2 linked regions of the Homo sapiens genome follow. The protein of the gene in region 1 purifies or fractionates together with the protein of each later gene. This does not show direct contact. Each region holds a gene or a part of one and is shown in the gene's direction. Other genes may lie near its edges.

What was found. The genes of interacting proteins can lie anywhere in the genome.
Region 2: the proteins of CMIP (region 1) and P2RY1 purify together in Homo sapiens (affinity purification with mass spectrometry; 2 studies listed by BioGRID and IntAct, with this or other methods). This does not show direct contact.

What each region holds. Positions count from the first base shown.
Region 1 is NC_000016.10:81,699,789-81,706,810, forward strand, and holds part of CMIP (C-Maf-inducing protein), read left to right. Parts: coding exon 1-13; intron 14-1,871; coding exon 1,872-2,012; intron 2,013-2,833; coding exon 2,834-2,881; intron 2,882-4,150; coding exon 4,151-4,297; intron 4,298-5,710; coding exon 5,711-5,816; intron 5,817-7,022. UniProt on the Homo sapiens protein: Plays a role in T-cell signaling pathway. Isoform 2 may play a role in T-helper 2 (Th2) signaling pathway and seems to represent the first proximal signaling protein that links T-cell receptor-mediated signal to the activation of c-Maf Th2 specific factor.
Region 2 is NC_000003.12:152,831,301-152,838,130, forward strand, and holds the start of P2RY1 (P2Y purinoceptor 1), read left to right. Parts: upstream 1-3,830; 5' UTR 3,831-4,482; coding exon 4,483-5,604; 3' UTR 5,605-6,830. UniProt on the Homo sapiens protein: Receptor for extracellular adenine nucleotides such as ADP. In platelets, binding to ADP leads to mobilization of intracellular calcium ions via activation of phospholipase C, a change in platelet shape, and ultimately platelet aggregation.

The sequences.
Region 1 (7,022 bases):
GACCATGGTGGAGGTAAGGAGCTGGTCGGGGTCCCTGGTGGGGTGGCTGGCTCCCCGTCCCTTGTCCGTGCCGATAGAGCATCTGCTGGGAGCCAGGAGCTGCTGCAGGCACGGGGGGCAGTGGGTGAGGCGTGCAGTCCCAGCCGTCCTGAGCTTAGTGGGAGCCTCGAGCCTTCATCATGCAGTGTATTTGTTTCTGTTGTGATCCAGCTGATCCATTGATCAGTGGGGTTGGGGACGCTTCTGTTCTGCTCATTTATTGCTGTGTAACAAACCACCTCTAAGTGAGGGCTTTAAAACAAGATCGTTCATTTCTTTTGCACATGGGCATTGGGGTACCTGGGCGCAGCTACGCACTTCTCACCTGGGGCCTCATCAGTCAGATGGGGCCAGGTTGGGTTAGCCCCAAGGCTTCTCGCATTGGCCTAAGAGGCCTCAGACAATGAGGGCTTTGGCGGCTGGGGCTCCCCAGCCGCACCCTTCACCTCGTGGCCTCCAGGTAGCCTGTCCACCTGCCAAGAACACACACACCCAGCCCCACAGGTCACCCCTCACCTGCTGCTGCTCCTCTCTCTCCCTGCACGCTCCAAAGTCCCCAGAAGCCTGAGACTCCCAGAGCAACTGTCCCAAAGTCCCCAGAAGCCTGAGACTCCCAGAGCAACTGTCCCAAGGGAACCAAGGCAGAAGCCATGTCACTTTTTAACTTAGCCTCCCTTGGAAGGCAGGCGGCATCACTTCTGCCACATCCTCCTGCTGGCAGTGAGTCACCGCGGCCGGCCCTCAGTCAAAGCCGTGGGAGCTAGACTTCACCCCTCAGTGGGAAGAGCATCGAAGAGTTGGCAGGCGCAGCAAAGCCATGGGAGCTCCCGTGGAAATGAGAGTTCGGGCAGATGTGAGCCCTGGGGAAGAGGCAGCGGGAAGGTGGGAGCTGAGCAGGCTGTGGGGACATCCCGGGCGGAGGCTTGCTGGAGGCCAGGGTGGCTGGAACACAGGGAGCCAAGGGGCAAGAGGTCTGGGATGTGGCTGGATGGGCATGAAGAGCCTTCTGGGTACCTAGAGGTGCTGGGAAGGAGTTTGGATTTAATCTTGGCTGTCCTGTGACAGGGATTCGGAGGCCATGGGGGAGGGCTGAGCAGGGAGACAGGAGACAGGCAAGAGGCGCTGTGAGAAGCGTGGGCTGAGTGACCTGCTCCTTGGTGAGTGAGAAGTTCTAGAACTGAGCACCATGGCATGCACCTGTAGTTCCAGCAACTTGGGATGCTGAGGTAGGAGGATCACTTGAGCCCAGGAGGTTGAAACTAGCCTGGGCAACATAGCAAGACCTCATCTCAAAAAAAAAAAAAATCGTCATTGGAAAGGGAATGTCAGAGGCAGGGCTGTCAGGCGTGTTGACCCCCAGGCCGAAGAGCCACATGTGCAGTCATGAGGCCCTCTAGGAAGCTGTGTGGTAGATGGGCCCAGGGCTCTGAGCCATTCCGTGAGTTTGAGCACCTACTTCATGACAGCCACTGGGGAAGGAACTGGGGAGAGAGAGGTGTCTTAACTTCTGGCCTTTCCACCAGTGCTCAGGGGCCTGCAAACATCCCCCGGGGGCCTGCCCCATGTCCAGACACCGCACGGTAAGCAGATGCCTGGGAGACTCCCATGTCCATTGACATTTGAACCTGGAGAACCTCAGTGCGTGGTCACTGGTGCTACCATTGTACAAGCAGGAAGTTGGGCAGGTGATTTGCCCAGGCTTACACAGCCGGGGCTGCAGAAAGGGGATAGTGGGGTTGCTGGTTTTCAAAACAAGGCCCTTGGGGTGCACAGAGTGTGCTGAGCTAGGGTGGCAGGCCGGGTCCGTAATGCACCCCTGCGGTTCTGGACAGATCCTGTGCTTGATGCTGGAATACAACATCATCGACAACAACGACACCCAACTGCAGATCATCTCAACCCTGGAGAGCACAGACGTGGGGAAGCGCATGTACGAGCAGCTGTGTGACCGGCAGCGGGAGCTGAAGGAGCTGGTGAGTCCCCGGCTGCTCCGGACCACTCCCCTGCCCAGCAGGCCAGGGGGGGCCAGGGCGGGATGCGGGGCAGCTAGTACTTGGACCTGAGTGGACCTCAATCTCGTTGAATTCTCCTCCAAACCCCAGAAATTGGTATTACCACCTGCCACTTTTCAGGTAATCAAAGAGAAGCAAAGCAATCCCCAGAGTCACACAGCTCATTGGGGCCTGGCCAGGACATTGCCCACCCTCCCTCCTCCATGTCCCTTAGACCCTTCCATTTCAGTACATGGGGGACCCAACTTCCAAATGCCAGCACCCACACCTCTTTGCTGAAGGACTTTGTATGTCCACATGCATATACTCACACATGTGTACACAGAAGGACGGAAGGGGCAGGAAATTCATGCCTTCTGATCTCCTGGAGCAGCCCTCAACCAGTCCCTTCTGGGGAGAGTGTGTAGAAATACCCCAGCTCCCTCACCCCTTCAGTGAGATATGTTTGAGACATGGCTTCTCCACCATTTCTTAGAGTCCCCCGGTGGGATTTGGTGCCAGTACCCACCCAGTGATAGCTGGATTGATAACACCCCTTCCATTATAGGTAGCCACAGTGTCACTTCCCCACTCTCCCACTGGTGTTTCTTGGGATCACCCTCCAGTAAACCACCTGTGCTCAAACCTCATCTCCGGGTTTGCCCCTGAGACCAAGACCACCGTGTTGCCTTGTACCACCAAGAAAATAACGATGGCTCCATGAGTGTTGTTAACAGAGGTGGAAGTCTAGAATGGAAACTTGGGGAAAAGAATGGTTGTAACCAGCCTGGTTTCTGTTGCAGCAAAGGAAAGGCGGGCCCACCAGGCTAACACTGCCCTCCAAGTCCACAGTGAGTTGGTTTGGTTCTCTTTGGGGCTGGATGGAGAAGGTGGGTTGGTCCTCTCTGTTGGGGAACGGCAGGTGGTGTCTGCTGCTGAGATGGGAGGTGATGGAGGGCGGGGCACAAGGACCCCCTAGTACTTAACACGCCAGCTCTTCCAGGAGGTAGCTGGGTTACAGGAAGAGAAATGAAAACCAAAAAGGAAGTTAAAATATGATACAGATTGTTGGTGATAATAGTGTTGATATCTAGTTATTAATAGTACTTGGAATAATAGCAGATATACCTTGAGCATTTGTGTGTCAGATGCTCTTCTATTAGTTTGTTTTATCCTCACAGCAACCCTTGGAAGCTTGTGTATCTTACCATTCGCATTTCACAAGGTCTTTAAGGGTCTTATTTCCTTCTATTCTGATGCCCCCATTATATTTGACACATGGCTTCTACTTCCTGGACCAAAAGGGCTGCTCAGGCTCCAGACCTCTTGTCTCCATTCCAGCCAGCAGGAAGGAGAACGTGCCCCTTCCTCTTAAGAAACTTCCTGGAAGTTCTACTTGACATGTCTACTTACATCCCATTTTCCAGATTTAGTGTGTGGGGCCACACACTAAATCAGCCTTCATTCCGGGCAGCCACAGGGCCGCTGACACTCAAGGATGGAGGGGAGTGTGGAGGTTGTCTTAGGAACCTCCCAGTCCGGTGCTCAGGCATGCGCTGGTGTCTTCAGGCATTAGAGTTGAGTGTGGCCTCAGTGTTGGCATGAGCTGCTGCCCAGGAGTGAGGCAGCCAGTCACACACCCTGATGCACAGACACAGACACACAGAGACACACCAACACACACACACACAAATATACACAGACGTGCACAGACACACACATGTACAGACACATGCATACACAAACGTGCACACAGACACACACAGATATACACACATACAGGCACACACACACAGACACACACACACACAGACGCCTGTGGGAGGATCGTGGCCTTGGAACACCCCGCTGGTGCCTCAGGGTGTGAGTCACAGCACTGGAGGCTTTCTCCTCCGCCTGGCAGCTGTCGTCCATGGGATGCGTGGCAGCCCCTCCCTCTCTGGCCACCCCCTTGGCCCATCCCACCGAGCTGTGCCCCCATCTCAGCTCCTGGGATTTACCGCCCCCCAGGAACAGCTCTCTGTAGGGCGAGGGGAGAGGAGGAGGATAGGGGATAGGAGGGCTCAGGGTCTCGGGAACTCCCAGCAGCACCCTCAGGCCTCTCCCCCGTCTGCCCGCAGGACGCTGACTTGGCTCGTTTGCTGAGCTCCGGCTCCTTCGGAAACCTGGAGAACCTCAGTTTGGCCTTCACCAATGTAACCAGTGCCTGCGCCGAGCACCTCATCAAACTGCCTTCGCTCAAGCAGCTGAACCTGTGGTCCACTCAGGTACGTCCTCCCGCCCTGCTGCAGTCCCCCACACCCTCCTCCTTCACCTCTGCACTCTCCTCCCTATTCCCCCGTACCATCTTCCTTTCCCCTCAGCCTCCTCCCTGCCCCCTCCCCCTCCTTCCTGCCCCCTCCCCCTCCTCCCTGCCCCCCTTACTCTCCTCCCTGCCCCTTCACCCTCCTCCCTGCTCCCCTCACCCTCCTCCCTGCCCCCTCACCCTCCTCCCTGTCCCCCTTACTCTCCTCCCTGCCCCCTCACCCTCCTCCCTGCCCCCCTTACTCTCCTCCCTGCCCCTTCACCCTCCTCCCTGCTCCCCTCACCCTCTTCCCTGCCCCCTCCCCCTCCTCCCTGCCCCCTCCCCCTCCCCTACCCACTTACCCTCCTCCCTGCCCCCTCACCCTCCTCCCTGCCCCCTCACCCTCCTCTCTTTCCCCTCACCCTCCTCCCTGCCCACTCACCCTCCTCCCTGCCCCCTCACCCCCCCACCCACTCACCCTCCTCCCTGCCCCCTCACCCTCCTCCCTGTCCCCCTTACTCTCCTCCCTGTCCCCTCACCCTCCTCCCTAACTCGTTCACCCTCCTCCCTACCCCTTCATCCTCCTCCCTGCCCCCGTCACCCTCCTCCCTGCCCCCTCACCCTCCTCCCTGCCCCTCACCCGCTTCCCTGCCTACACCCCAGGCATTGCTTACCACACGACCCTTCCCTCAAGCTCAGCACCCACTCCCTGAGGCTAGAGGAGGTTGAGGACCTCATGAAGCCCTGCAGCCCATTTCCCATTTGGAAATAATGTGCCCAGTTCCGAGTCCTGAGGTTCTGAGAGGTAGAGCTGAGACGTGAGCCAGGCTTCGCTGGCCTGCGGGGGGCTGCGCAGGAGGCTTCTGGGTCTTTTTGTTATAGTAACACCAGTGGCTGCTGAGTCCCAGCTCAGTGTGAACTGCACTGCTCAGTACTCTGCACAGGGCAGATGAAGGGGCCTTCACTGCACACCTGTGAAGTGCAGGTTCTACCCTCACCCTAATTTTCCAGAGGAGAAACTGGGGACAGTCCCTGCAGCCTGCCCCCGGCCCAGCCCTGTCCTTCCACTGTCCACCCAGCAGGAGAAAGCCACCTAGGCAGCATCTCGAAGCTAGGGAGAGACAAGTTCAAAGCCCTCCTTCATGGAGGCAAAACTGACTCCAAGGGGGCCCTGGCCTGGCTCCACTCCCAACAGCAGAAGCTGGATTCTAACCCGGTTCAGAGAGGCGTGGGATTGTTTAGGGGACGTGAACGCAGCCCAGACCCCAGGGCTTGGTGGGCCATGGGCCTCAGAGCCAGGCTCTGTCCCCATCCCTTTCCTCCACCTCTGCCCCAGCCTCAGAGTCACTTCCCCAGGAGTGGCCGGGAGAGGGCTGAGAGTTTCTGTGCTCTACAGTTTGGAGACGCTGGCCTTCGGCTCCTGTCGGAACACCTCACCATGCTCCAGGTGCTGAACCTGTGCGAGACCCCGGTCACAGACGCTGGCCTGCTGGCCCTGAGCTGTGAGTGCCTCCGGGGCAGCTGGGGGGTGAGGGGCCGCTTGATTCATTCCTTCCTTGCTTCAGCCAAACTGGCCAAGCACTGACTTTGCACCATGCACAGATAGAGAAATTCGTTCATTCACAAACGTGTTCACTGCACACCTGCTGTGGACCAGGCACCATTCCATGTGCCAGGAACAACACAGGGAAAAATATCCCTAACCTCAGAGAGCTTATATTCTAGAGGCAATAGAAAAAATGAGTAAGGCCAGCCCATAGCCTCTTGACACTCACAGTCCACTGAGGGGTCGAGTTCAAGGACGGGGCTGTAGTACATTGCCACTGTGGTCCCCTGACCAGTGGTGGCAGCGTCTTCTGGGGGCTGGTCAGAAATGTACATTCCCAAGCCCACTCCAGACCTCCTGACTCAGACACCGTACGGTAAGCAGATGCCTGGGAGGCTCCCGTGCCCGTTGACATTTGAGAAGCCCTGTCATAATAGAAGGAGGCACAGAATTCTCAAGGAACCTAGAAAGGCCAGTTCCTGTGTGCCAAACCCCAGGTGACTGAACTAGCCTCAGGGATATTGAGCCCGGGATTCTGTATTTGACCAGCTTTCCCTTTTCCAGGCCCACTGCTTTAGACGGGAAGACCCGTGGCTCAGTGGGAAGAGTCAGAAAAGGCTTCCCGGGGAGGTGCTGTTGAGTCTGGGTGTGAAGACAGATTTGTGGGAGTTGGCCAAGGGGGAGGCACCCTGAGCAGGGGCCATGACTCCTACCGGGCCGCTGGCAAATGCTGGGTGGCTTGGGAGGAGGTGGGAGCAGGTGACTGGGTCAGTGGAGGCAGAGCGGCAGCGCTCGGCCAGTTTGGCTGCAAATGCAGATGCGCTGCTTCCACTGGAGTCCCCCGGGGGGGCGCGGTCCTCATCAACAGCACAGATTCCTGGTCCCTGCTGCGGCCCTGCTCAGCGTCTCTGGGAGTGGGTGGAGGGGTCTGCCCCCCGTGCGACTCCAACACAAACCAGAGGTTGAGGCTTGCTTTCAAGAAGCAGCACCGAGTCAATGACGACGGGGGGACCATCCGGGGTTCCCTTAGTGGGGAGGCCTCGGGCCTGATCTGGGGTGTGGCAGGCAAGCTCTGGGGACATCAGGTCCAGGCAGTGGGGGCACACGACAGAGGGACCAGAAGGGAGGGAGGCTCAGAGGGTGGGAAGAAAACGAAGGCTCT
Region 2 (6,830 bases), on another chromosome or scaffold:
TTAGTCAAATCTGATGGTTTTTTGGTCTCTACTCAGATGGGAGATTTCATATTTTATGTTTATGAGAAGTTTCTTTTTCCCTTTTCTGCCTGTGGCCCTCAATTGGAATTTTTCCAATGATTTTCCCATTCTTAATGATTGTTGGATTTTCTGTGGCTTAAAGAAAAAGAAAATAGAGATTTTCTAAATATGGTGATAAAAATCTTTGTAAACATAATAAGGGCAACCTTTTTGTTTATGAGTCTAAAACTCAACAGATCTGATGTCCCAGTGATTTTCTCTCTCAGATTATAGGTAAATCGCTGGCTGTTTTTAAGAAGCCTATGTAGAGAAGTGGAATATTTAGAAGCTTCTGAAATACTCTTTGACTATCAATAACTTCAATATCTGGCTTAGAATTTTCTCTCCTGAGGGAAGGCTTCTGGGAGTAACGCTTTCTAAACGCAATCTGTGCTGGCCACTAAAAGTTAACGTTTCTCTCAGTGCCCCGTATTTGCTTTTTTTCATCATGGGATAGTGGCTGAATGCATAGACTTCAGTGACAAACAGCCTACATTTAAATCCCAGTATCTACTGTGTGACTATGGGTGAATTACTTAACCTCCCTGTACCTTAGTTTCATCACTTATAAAATGGGAATACAATGGCCAAATATCATCATGCATATTTTAAGGGTGAAAAGAGATAATCCTTTTTACATGTACACAGTACTTGAGTGTACAGCAAAGGCCTATTTTTATTGCTATTGTTATATTTACTATTATGGTTAGCTATATATATTATTTGCATTTCCAACTAAATTGTAAATCTCTTGAAGTCAGGTTCTTACACTGCTACTTAAATATAAGGGCATAAGAAGGGCAACCTTTTTGTTTATGAGTCCAAGACTGCCATTAAAAGTAATGGCAGGCCGGGCGCGGTGGCTCATGCATGCCTGTAATCCCAGGACTTTGGGAGGCTGAGGCGGGCGGATCATGAGGTCAGGAGATCAAGACCATCCTGGCTAACTAACACTGTGAAAACCCCGTCTCTACTGAAAATACAAAAAAATTAGTCGGGCATGATGGCGGGCGCCTGTAGTCCCACGCCAGGCAGGAGAATGGCATGAACTCGGGATGTGGAGCTTGCAGTGAGCCGAGATTGCGCCACTGCACTCCAGCCTGGGCGACAGAGTGAGACCCCGTCTCAAAAAAAAAAAAAAAAAAATTAACATGGAATGCTTAGGGATGTCACTTAAATATGTAAGAATTTTTTATCATGTCTTTAAGCCATCTATAATTGATGTTCAAATGTGAATAATGATTCTTAGATTTTTTCTTCATTAATAATAGTTGAATGTTTTACAAATAGAAAGTTATAGTAATTACTGAATATATGTAACTTATTCCCACAAGGCAAAATTTTGATTTAAAGCATAACTGAAACATAACTGTGTAGTTAAATATGTTGAATGCAAAAGCAATGCTTACAAAGTTTGTTTATTTATTTATTTATTTATTTATTTATTTTGAGACGGAGTCTCACTCTGTCGCCCAGGCTGGAGTGCAGTGGCTCGATCTCAGCTCACTGCAAGCTCCGCCTTCTGTGTTCACACCATTCTTCTGCCTCAGCCTCCCGAGTAGCTGGGACTACAGGTGCCCGCCACCACACCCGGCTAATTTTTTGTATTTTTAGTACAGAGGGGGTTTCACCGTGTTAGCCAGGATGGTCTCCATCTCCTGACCTCGTGATCTGCCCACCTCGGCCTCCTAAAGTGTTGGGATTACAGGCGTGAGCCACAGCGCCCAGCCCAAAATTTATTTTTTAACATCATTTTTTAAAAAGTCTGTGGTGCACTTAAAACAACTATCCCCCAATTCCTAGTAAGGTGTCAGTTTTCTGCAAGTACTTAATGGTATCTGGACTAAGTGTACATTTCAAAACACTCACATTATGAGTTAATGCATTTGCAACAAACTTCTGAGTGAAGTCAGATATTGCCTAGGTTGCAAATAAAAAATGCAAAGGAGTGAGGACTTAAGACCTATTGAGTACCCCTGGAACCCTTAATGGTTTTCTTTGCTTCCTTTTCTCTCTTAATAGACAATCATCCCACCTAGGACCATACTAATCAAACAATACACAAATGTTTCATGTTAAGGCTCAGAATCATAGACTCATATAATCAGGAGATTGGAAGGAAACACAAAAAGTAAGACTTTTCAAGACAACCTCATTCACACTGTTTACTTGAATTATTTACTCTTGTTTTATTATTAATTTTTATGCTGTTCAATTGACTACAATTCAAAACCCAGTGTATTCATACCATGTGCTAAGATATGCTCCTTCCTATATGTGTTCCTCTAAAGAACCATCTGGATCTTGTGGGGGATATTTTCCTTTGTGGTATCAAAGCCAGGAGCTCGTGGTTTTCCTTTATTTTTTAAGGGAACACTATCATGTAGCATCTGGGACCAGAAAGAAATCTTGATGTTATATATTTTACAGATATTTTCTTTTTGGATTTTTTTTCCTCTAAGAGAAAAGCTTTTGTTAATGTGTCATGTAAAAATACATTAACTAGTAACTTGTCAAGAAGTGCTAGATTCCATTCTTGTGCGGGTCCATTTATATATGTTCCTGAACAGCTAATATTTCATTTAGTTTCCAATTAAACTTGCTCAAATACATTTTTGAAGTGCATTGCTTAAAATTTACATTCAAGGCAAGAAAACGAGTTTGTCAGTAAATGTAGTAATTAAGGAAGTCCCAAGTCTGTATTTTTAAGATACTAGAGGTAATTGTAACTAATCACTTTAACTTAAAGAAATAGAATTGGAAATACCCCCCTCCCCCCGCCACCCCCTACCAAAACCATACCTTAGTCACTTTGGAATTATAACCGTCTTTTACGTCTATCAATATAAATGTATTGCATTTGGCATTCAAATTACTTTCAAAGGGATAAATTTCGAATTTTTTTTTTTCATTGTAGCTTCTGATCTTTAAATGTACTGAACAGGAGGATTTGGGGAGCTTGTCTTGTCTGATAGGTGTTAAGTATCTATGACGACAAATTTGAGCTGAAGCAATGTGCAATATGGACTAGTAATATCTTCACAAGACTATTTTGGAAATTCTCACGTTGATGTTATTAATGACGTGGGTTTATTAGCATTTGGGTAATTAAGAAAAAACAGTACTAGAATTTAAAAAAAAGAAAAAAAAAGGTAAGAAGGGCGAAACAGAGTTCTCCACTCCTCTCCCAACCCTCATTCCTTTGGAGGCTCGCGCCCTCTTGGAATAGCAGGTTCCTGCATGTGCCAGAAATCCGGTCCCGGCAAAGCTAGACGCTCTGCAATGACAGGCGTTCCCAGCTAGGGACTCCTGGCTGCTTGGAGCTTGAAAACACCTGGCGTGGTTCTCGAGGGCCCTAGAGGCTCCTGCTACGGACTGGTCGGCTCTGGGGTTGTAGGCAGAAGGCTCTAAGCGGTCGGAAGGGTTTCCTGTGTGTCAGCAACTTCACTTTGCCGAGATAGCTGGCGGAAGAGGGAAGGAGCGCTCGCGGGCCAATCGCCTGCCAGCAGCCACCTTGGAGCGCACCCCTCTCCCTCGCCGCCGACTCCGGTAGCAGCGTGCCGGCAGAGGCTGAACACACTCGGCCTCGGCGGAGACCTGCTCCCCAGAAGACGCCTCCTGCTTCCCACTGCGCCCTGGAGGACGCGGGCTGGCTGCTGGGCGAGCTCGGCGGAGGCACGCCCCTCGCCTCCCCGCGGAGTGCGGACTCGCCCCGGTGCCCAAACTCCGCCCACCCTCTAGGGAGCTCCGCTCTCCCGCCTAACCCCGGCACTCCGGACAGAGCTGGGCCTGGGGAAGGGGTTCCTGAACTACGCGGACGCCGAACGGGACGCGCTGCAGAAGCGCACGAGTCTGCGGCCACGCGCGCTCCGATGGCTGCCAGGAGCTGAGCTCAGGGTGGGCGGAGGAAGCGGTTAGACGCCCCGAAACTGAGCTGCACGTTTCTAAGGTAGGGAGGAGGAAGATGCCCCCAATTAAGTTGATCTTTGAGCCAAGGAGGCTGGGGAGCAGCCTCCCCAAGCTAGAGCCCTGCAGAGCGAGTTTCCCTTGACCTCGCTGCGCCTCTGGCGCGCTCTGCAGCGCGGACCCGCGGCCCCTCGGGAAAGCGCAGTCGGAAAGTTATCCGCGGCGGTTCCCTGCGCGCCCTGTTGTGTAAGCTCGGCGTTGCCAGCGGACGGAGAAGTTGCTGGCTTGCCCGATAGCCCAGTTCGGTGGCGGCCCGGGGCGGATTTCATGGCCCGCGGCGAACGCGGGGCCAGAGCTGGCGTGGGCGAGCCCCTGCGCGCCCCCTCCCGCGGGGATCCAGTTCGCCTGCTCCCTTCCGCTCGCTGGCTTTTCCGATGCTTGCTGCGCCCCTGGCCGCCGCTGCCCTCTCGCCGCCTCCTACCCCTCGGAGCCGCCGCCTAAGTCGAGGAGGAGAGAATGACCGAGGTGCTGTGGCCGGCTGTCCCCAACGGGACGGACGCTGCCTTCCTGGCCGGTCCGGGTTCGTCCTGGGGGAACAGCACGGTCGCCTCCACTGCCGCCGTCTCCTCGTCGTTCAAATGCGCCTTGACCAAGACGGGCTTCCAGTTTTACTACCTGCCGGCTGTCTACATCTTGGTATTCATCATCGGCTTCCTGGGCAACAGCGTGGCCATCTGGATGTTCGTCTTCCACATGAAGCCCTGGAGCGGCATCTCCGTGTACATGTTCAATTTGGCTCTGGCCGACTTCTTGTACGTGCTGACTCTGCCAGCCCTGATCTTCTACTACTTCAATAAAACAGACTGGATCTTCGGGGATGCCATGTGTAAACTGCAGAGGTTCATCTTTCATGTGAACCTCTATGGCAGCATCTTGTTTCTGACATGCATCAGTGCCCACCGGTACAGCGGTGTGGTGTACCCCCTCAAGTCCCTGGGCCGGCTCAAAAAGAAGAATGCGATCTGTATCAGCGTGCTGGTGTGGCTCATTGTGGTGGTGGCGATCTCCCCCATCCTCTTCTACTCAGGTACCGGGGTCCGCAAAAACAAAACCATCACCTGTTACGACACCACCTCAGACGAGTACCTGCGAAGTTATTTCATCTACAGCATGTGCACGACCGTGGCCATGTTCTGTGTCCCCTTGGTGCTGATTCTGGGCTGTTACGGATTAATTGTGAGAGCTTTGATTTACAAAGATCTGGACAACTCTCCTCTGAGGAGAAAATCGATTTACCTGGTAATCATTGTACTGACTGTTTTTGCTGTGTCTTACATCCCTTTCCATGTGATGAAAACGATGAACTTGAGGGCCCGGCTTGATTTTCAGACCCCAGCAATGTGTGCTTTCAATGACAGGGTTTATGCCACGTATCAGGTGACAAGAGGTCTAGCAAGTCTCAACAGTTGTGTGGACCCCATTCTCTATTTCTTGGCGGGAGATACTTTCAGAAGGAGACTCTCCCGAGCCACAAGGAAAGCTTCTAGAAGAAGTGAGGCAAATTTGCAATCCAAGAGTGAAGACATGACCCTCAATATTTTACCTGAGTTCAAGCAGAATGGAGATACAAGCCTGTGAAGGCACAAGAATCTCCAAACACCTCTCTGTTGTAATATGGTAGGATGCTTAACAGAATCAAGTACTTTTCCCCTCTTTAACTTTCTAGTTTAGAAAAAAATCAAACCAAGAAAATAGTGAGTTAAAAAAATAATAGAAGTAGAAATGCCCACATCCACACTTAGCTTGTTTGGGTTTGCTTTCACAGTCTCTCTTCCTTCTGACTAGAAGTATGTATAATAAAACAATACTACCTAGTTAAACATTTACTTTCTCTTTTGCCTTTAAAATGTGCAGGCTTTTCTGTTTAAAGTGTGTGTGCACATGAGTACTGGGGCTGTTTTTGATATTAGTAATTTCTCTAAGAAAACTAGCCCCCTGCAACTTGAGTTTGTGGTTTATCTAGCCTTTATTGTTTTTTTAAAATCCACAGTAGGAATAAAAAATCTATATTCTCAGAAATATCTAGCATGGTATATAACAAAACACTAAACTCATCAGTTCATCCGGCATCAGATCAATGGATCTCTGAGCGGGGTGTTTTTTTCAGTGTCTTATAAGCATAGATGATAGTTGACTGAGTTTCTTTAGGGCATTGAATAGACAAGTAAAGCTAATGAATTTAAAAGCCTGAAAAGTGATTGTTTTCCAGTTATTTCTGGAAAAGGTCTCATTATATATTGGGTGCTAAATGTTTGATGGGGAAAGCCTGCATATATTATCGTACTGGTAAAATGCATTCAAAATAATTAAAGTGCATGTATTTTCCTTGTAAACACCATGAGCTCTCTTAGACATCTTGTGATAAAGAGCATTTACTTGCCCCACTGCTGTGCAATGCCTTAGGACTTTGTTTGTGTTCCAGGACAAGTGTTCACTCACATCTGTAAAAACAATTTTAAGAATTGCAAATAAATTACAGACCAAAGATTGAGTAAAGTCAAATAACTGTTAGTAAGTTGAAGGATATTGGACAGGAGGACAGTATTTCAGAAAAGGAGAGGTTGACAGTCATCCACAAGGCATAGCCTCCAAGTATACTCTCAAATGTATGAAGCAACTGGGGTGGGCAGAAGACATTTTAGAATGAGGGCTTTAGTTTAAATTAAAGTCATGGTGGAGAAGACTCTTGCTTCCTCCAAGTGTTTGAAAACACAAAATGCGATATGAAAAGAAGAAATAGAATTTGTATAGGTTGCATTGATAGAATGGGAAGCTATAATCTTTGAATAAACCTTACATCTCAA